2 linked regions of the Homo sapiens genome follow. The protein of the gene in region 1 interacts with the protein of each later gene in a biochemical or structural test. Each region holds a gene or a part of one and is shown in the gene's direction. Other genes may lie near its edges.

Region 1 (3,686 bases):
TGATGACTAAAACCAGAGCCATGGAGGTCGTGGCCGGGTTTGTACAGAACGGTCACCTAGACCCTGGTGAATCACACGCCTTTGCATGTATCTCCTGTACTCCTGATAACTTCAGCCTTACCAGTAATGTGGCATGGGCGTGTGTCCTCTCCACATAATGCCAGGGCACCGTCATCCCAAAGACGAAGGCCAGGCTGGTTGCACAGCATCCCAGGAAACAGAACTTTTAGAAGACAGACTCCTGATCCAGCCATACCCCAGACCCATTCAAACAAATTCCATGTGATCAAAAGGAGCCTTCCTGGGTGTTCCTGCCCCATAACTGGGTGCCACCCCTGCCATTGAGCCTGGGACTGAGAGAAACACCAGCAGTCCCTGCTCTAAGGAATCAGCTGTGTGACCTTTCACAGACTCCTTAACTTCTCTGAGCCTTGCTTTTATCATCTTTAAATGAGAAGGTTGGTCAGGCATGGTGGCTCACACCTATAATCCCAGCACTTTGGGAGGCCAAGGTCAGCAGATCACTTGAGGCCAAGAGTTCGAGACCAGCCTAGCCAACATGGCGAAACTCTGTCTCTACTAAATATACAAAAATTAGCTGGGCGTGGTGGCGGATGCCTGTAATCCCAGCCACTCAGGAGGCTGAGGCAGGAGAATTGTTTAACCCCAGGAGGCGGAGGTTGCAGTGAGCTGAGATCCGCCACTGTGAGCCATAACCACACCACTGCACTCCAGACTGGGTGACAGAGCAAGACTGTGTCTCAAAAATAAATAAATAAACAAACAAAAAATAAATAAAATGAAAAGGTTGCTTCCAAGCTCTTTATGATTGCCAGGGCTCTAACTACACCTACTTCTACTCCAGTAAATTTACCGTTGATCCTTAAAGAACTAACCTCTGTGGAGGGAGTGGATGGGAGAGTGGCTGATTGCAGTAGAAAGGTCTTCAAGTCGAAAAGTTTTGCAGCTGCTGCCATTCCAGTGCCCCCTGCACGTCCCTGTGGGCAGGGCCGCCCGTTTCTCTTTGAGGGTGTTGTTTCCGTCCCCCGTGGCCTTGACAACTGCTCTGATTTGTGCTGAGCACAGCAAAGGGGAAATGCCCTCCTCTCAGAGGTCTCCTGGCCTCACCTGAGGTGGGCCAGGGTGTGTGGCTTCTCTGTGGCCTCAGTTTCCCATTCAGAGCCATCAGTGGCTGACTCTAAACTACAGTCACTGTCATAGTGTTGGAGTCTTGACTCCCAGGAGAGCTTCCTTTTTTTTGTCTTTTCCTTTTTGCCGGGTTAGGAGAAAATAGCTTTACACTTGGATTTTAAAAGTTAGGCAAGAGAGTTACAACAACTGAAAAAGGTAAGATGAAGAAAGCTAACCTCACCCAAAATTCCACCTCAGTGAAATCTTTTTTCTTTTTCTTTTCTTATTTTTTTTCTTTTTTGAGACGGAATCTCACTCTGCTGCCCAGGCTGGAGGGCAGGGGCACGATCTCAGCTCACTGCAACCTCCTCCTTTCAAGTTCAAGCCATTCCCGTGGCTCAGCCTCCCAAGTAGCTGAGATTACAGGCATGCACCACCACACCCAGCTAACTTTTGTATTTTTAATAGAGACGGGGTTTCACCATGTTGGCCAGGCTGGTCTCAATCTACTGGCCTCAGGTGATCCACCCACCTCGGTCTCCAAAAGTGCTGGGATTACAGGCATGAACCACATTCCAGGCCCTTTTTCTTTTTTTTTAAGAAAGAGGGTCTCACACTGTCCCCCAGGCTGGAGTGCAGTAGCACAATCATAGTTCACTGCAGCTTCCAACTCTTGGACTCAAGCGATCCTCCCACCTCAGCCTCTGAAAGTGCTGGGATTATAGGCATGAGCCACCACACCTGGCCACAAAGTCTTTCTTGAAAGACAAGTTCAGCCTTCTTGTTACTAATTTGTATTCTCTGATAAATCCGATGACACCACAAGCAGCCATGGAACTCACGACAGCCCCCACACTGGAGGCACCGCCTGCTAGGGACCCTGTTGTGGGTGCTGGGGGCAGTGGGCCCTCCTGATGAGACAGCTGCCCAGGCTTGGCTATCGCATCCCCATGGGCTCAGTCACTGCTGAATGTCCTGCTACTACCTTAGGAAGGGAAGGGATTTCAGTAGCAGGGCCCCTAGAACAGCCCAGCAGCCGAAGCCCAGGACACAGCACACCTGTGCGGGTGCGGCCATCTGCTCCACACAGAGCTTGCCAGCCACTCAACAAGCAGGCCGCACTTCAGGTGGCTCATGGGAGCCGTGCTTCTTGCGGTGGTCTTGGGCCAGCAGCAAGGGGGTCCTCAGGGAGCTCACAGAGACCTGCTCCTGGCCAGACCCACTGCCACGGCAGCTGCATCTGTGCCAGCCCTGGGACACGTGCACTCTGAGAGTCAGACAGCCATGCTCTAAATGTCAGCCTGGCCTCCTCCGAGTGCCTTTTGGTGGGGGGAGTGAAGTATTCCCATCCTGTCTGTTTCTCACTGGCCCAAAATCCCAAGCTAAAGCCTCCCCATCTGCCTCTGCCACAGGAGTCTGCTGCGGTTCCTGTCCTACTCCGCCCAGGTGACGGGACAGTTTCTCATCTATCTGGGCACATACATGCTCCGGGTGCTGGATGACAAGGAAGAGCGGCCATCCCTCCGGTCACAAGCCAAGGGCAGGTTCACGTGTGGATAGGGATGCAGGCTGTCGCCGGCTCTTGAGCCAAACACTGTGTTTCGTTTGGCTCAATGACGAATGTTGAAGATGCTTTTATGTTCTGAGCCACATGCACTTGGAGGCCGCTGGTCACGCTGCTCAGGAGTGGTGCCCAGAAAAGGAAAGGGCTTGGTGGTACATGAAGTGGGGGCAGTGGGCAGGGTGCCCTGGGGGGGAGGCATAGAGGGCCCTGGGGGTCATGGGAAGCGAGCACGCAGCAGGCGTGCCCAGGAGCGTGTGCATGTGTCAGAGCCATTTGGTCCATCATCTCCTGCAATAAACCCATCGCAAGAATGACCTTCAAGATGTGTGACACTTCCTGTGTCTCCTTTATCTCTCAGAAGAGCAAAAAGCAAACAAAACAAAACAAAACTATCAGAACAGCAAAAAAAAAAAAAAACTTTATATAGAAGCAAAACTCATCCAGGAATATTCTGCTAACAGATATAATCTCTCATAAGTCTTTATTAGTGCCACAAAAATAACAAGCTGCAAAATGTTATTGTATGTTTTTTTCAAACATGGATTTTTAACAGGCTCAAAGGGGCCCTCACACTGAAGGACTCAAATTGTGGAGGTCTTCAAGGACTTTTTTACTTTTTCACTTGTGAAAGTGAAAGGACTTTACTTTTTCAGCCTCTTTTTTCTTTTTCTTCTTTTTTTTTTTTTTTTTTTTTTGAGACAGGGTCTAGCTCTGTCACCCAAGCTGGAGTACAGCGGCCTGATCTCGGCTCACTGCTGCCTCGACCTCCCTGGGCTCAAGCCATCCTCCCACCTCAGCCTCCTGAGTAGCTGAGATTACAAGTGCACACCACCACCCCTAGTTTTTTTTATTTTTGTAGAGATGGGGTCTTGCTATGTTGCTCAGACTGGTCTCAAACTCCTAGACTCAAGCAATCCTCCTACCTGGGCCTCCCAAAGTTCTGAGATTACAGACGTGAGCCACCACACCCGGCCCAGCCTTTTTCTTAAAA
Region 2 (2,534 bases), on another chromosome or scaffold:
GGGAGCAGAGTTAAGGAAGACCAGTGCTTGCCGTTGTAGGATGACATTCCACGGCGAATAGAGTCTTCTATGAGCCAAGGAGAGAAAGGAAAAAGGGTCTGAGGCTGAGAAAATTGAGGATCAGGCTAGAGGCGCTATTGCAGAGAAAAGTTGCCAAAAAGGCTTTTCAGAGGAGTTAGCATTTGAATCAAAGTAGGGATAACATATAAGTATTGAGCACGTGCTGTATGCCAGGCTCTATTCCAAGTGTTGGCATATGGGGCAAAGAACAAAGCAGATCAAACCCCGTGCCCCAAACCTTGTGCTCACCTGGGGAAAGAGTATCCTAAGGAGATGGGGATGCAGCATGTGCGGAAGCCTGAAGTGGAGAAAGAGCTCGGGCTGTCTCACGTGATGGCTGCACGCTGGTGTGGCTGAGAGAACAGGGGGGAAGGGGACAAGGGATAATCCTGGTGAGATTAGACCCCCATTTGGGCCAGGAGGGGAGGGACTAGCAGCTGAAGGGTCACAGGGCTCAAGCTCCCCCTCCCGCTGCCGCCCTTAGATCATGCTGCTAGAGACAGCCAGGCGCTACAACCACGAGACAGAGTGTATCACCTTCTTGAAGGACTTCACCTACAGCAAGGACGACTTCCACCGTGCAGGTAGGGCCCAGGGGAGGCTTCGGGGAGGCTTGGCGCCCCTGCTGGCTGGAAGACCTGGGGCCAACTCATCCCTGTTGGAGTCTCTGTTTCTTTATCTCCAAAGTTGGGGTGAGGGTTGAGCCAAGGTGAGAGTGAGGTAAGAGTGCATGTGCCACGTGTGGTGGTGCACGCCAATAGTCCCAGCCACTCGAGGCTGAGGAGGGCAGATTGCTTGAGGCTATAGTGAGCCGTGATTGTGCGACGGCATTCCAGCCTGGTGACAGAGAAGACCGTGTCTCTATTTTTTAAAAAAAGCATGTATTGAGTGCCGACTCTGTACATTGGGTTGCAGTGGAAGTTGAGATGGGAGGAGCCCTGTTACCACATCAGGCATCTTGGTGGGCATTAGGAAAAGCATTCCCCGCCCCCGCCAAAACGTGGTCTCACCCAAGGGAGGCGGGCTGGAGCTCGGTCCATTGTGAAGCGGGCAGCCTTCTTTACTGTCTAGGGGAGCACTGCTTCCTGCCCTCTGAGAGCGCTAACCTGCGTGGGTGGGCTTCTGGAAGAAGGCCTGGGCAGTGAGAGGCACTGCCTAGGAAAAGGGTGGGAGGAGCATTGCTAGTGCTGCAGAGCATGCACCAGGGCCTCGCTCCCTCATTGTCCCACAATCTCTGGGGGACCTCTCTGTATTTCCCGACATCTGTCCAAACCCCACCCTCTCCCCTTCCTCTTACTCCGGCCCTTTCACCACCCGAGACGGTCCCAGTAACCCTTTTAGTATGAGCTTAGCAGGGCAGGGCTGCAGGGAAGCGTTTCTGGCAGAGGAGATTGGCGATTGCAGAGGCCCTGAGGTTGGGGAGAGCTGGTGGTTTGGAGGAACTACAGGGAGGCCCAGGCAGCTGGAGCACAAGGAGATGGGGTGGAGAGGAGGTCGGGAATCCCACCCTACCCCTTCCCAGCCGCTCCTCTGCCACCACCCTGGAACACTGCCAGGGTCCCCTTGAGGGGCCGCCTGCCTCCACCCCTGCCTGATGGGGCTGCTCACAGCACAGGCAGAAGGGTCCTGTCAGCACTTAAGGCTGCCCACTTCCCTCCTCCGCTCAGAACCCTCCGCGGCTCCCGTCTCACTGGGAGAAGAGCTAGAGTCCTCTCTGTGGCCCACAAAGCCCTTTAGGACCTGGCCTCGCTCACTCTCTGCCCTCAGCTCTCACCCTCTCCCCCTGTTCCAGCCACTCTGGCCTCTTACTGGCACCCATCCAGCATGCTGCAGCCAAGGGCCTGTGTACTTGGAGTTTCCTCTGCCCAGAACTAGGGGGACCAACTGGTCCTAGTTTGCCCAGGACCTTCCCAGTTTTAACACTGAAAGTCTCATGGCCTGGGTAGCCCCCGTCCCAAGTCATGGGAACAGCAGACGTTGGTCACCCTCACAATCCCTCATCTCCTTCGGATTGGTCACTGCTCCAGCGTCACCCAGAGCGCAGCCTTCCCTGCCCGCCTTGTGTAAAATAGAACCATGGCTCAGCAGGGCCCTTCACACTTCTCTGCACTGCCTGGTTCCATTGAACTCACAGCCCTCTGACAGGCTGGGCCTCTTCCTAATGTGTTTGTCTATGACCGGTCCCCTAGGCTCTCAAATGTAAGTGCTGGAGCCTGGCACGTGGCAGGTACTCAGTGACATTTGATGACTGAATGAACAAGTCAGTTTTGGGAATGAGTTTGGGCTTTACCTTGAGCAGTGGAAGCCAGCGCTGGGACCAGCACGATGTGACCTAGGTTTTAAAAGCTTCCCTTTGCCTTTGTGAAGGGGACAAGAATAGGGACTCGGGAAGCTGCAGCCACCGCCCAGGTGGGAAGGGAGGGTGGTGATAGGATAGTAGAAAATACTGAAGAAACATGCACCCTCATTCATTC

What was found.
Region 2: the proteins of CIDEA (region 1) and NR1H2 form a complex in vitro, tested with the Homo sapiens proteins (one study listed by IntAct).

The regions. Positions count from the first base shown.
Region 1 is NC_000018.10:12,274,580-12,278,265, forward strand, and holds the end of CIDEA (lipid transferase CIDEA), read left to right. Parts: intron 1-2,543; coding exon 2,544-2,691; 3' UTR 2,692-3,016; downstream 3,017-3,686. UniProt on the Homo sapiens protein: Lipid transferase that promotes unilocular lipid droplet formation by mediating lipid droplet fusion. Lipid droplet fusion promotes their enlargement, restricting lipolysis and favoring lipid storage.
Region 2 is NC_000019.10:50,379,236-50,381,769, forward strand, and holds part of NR1H2 (oxysterols receptor LXR-beta), read left to right. Parts: intron 1-544; coding exon 545-644; intron 645-2,534. UniProt on the Homo sapiens protein: Nuclear receptor that exhibits a ligand-dependent transcriptional activation activity. Binds preferentially to double-stranded oligonucleotide direct repeats having the consensus half-site sequence 5'-AGGTCA-3' and 4-nt spacing (DR-4).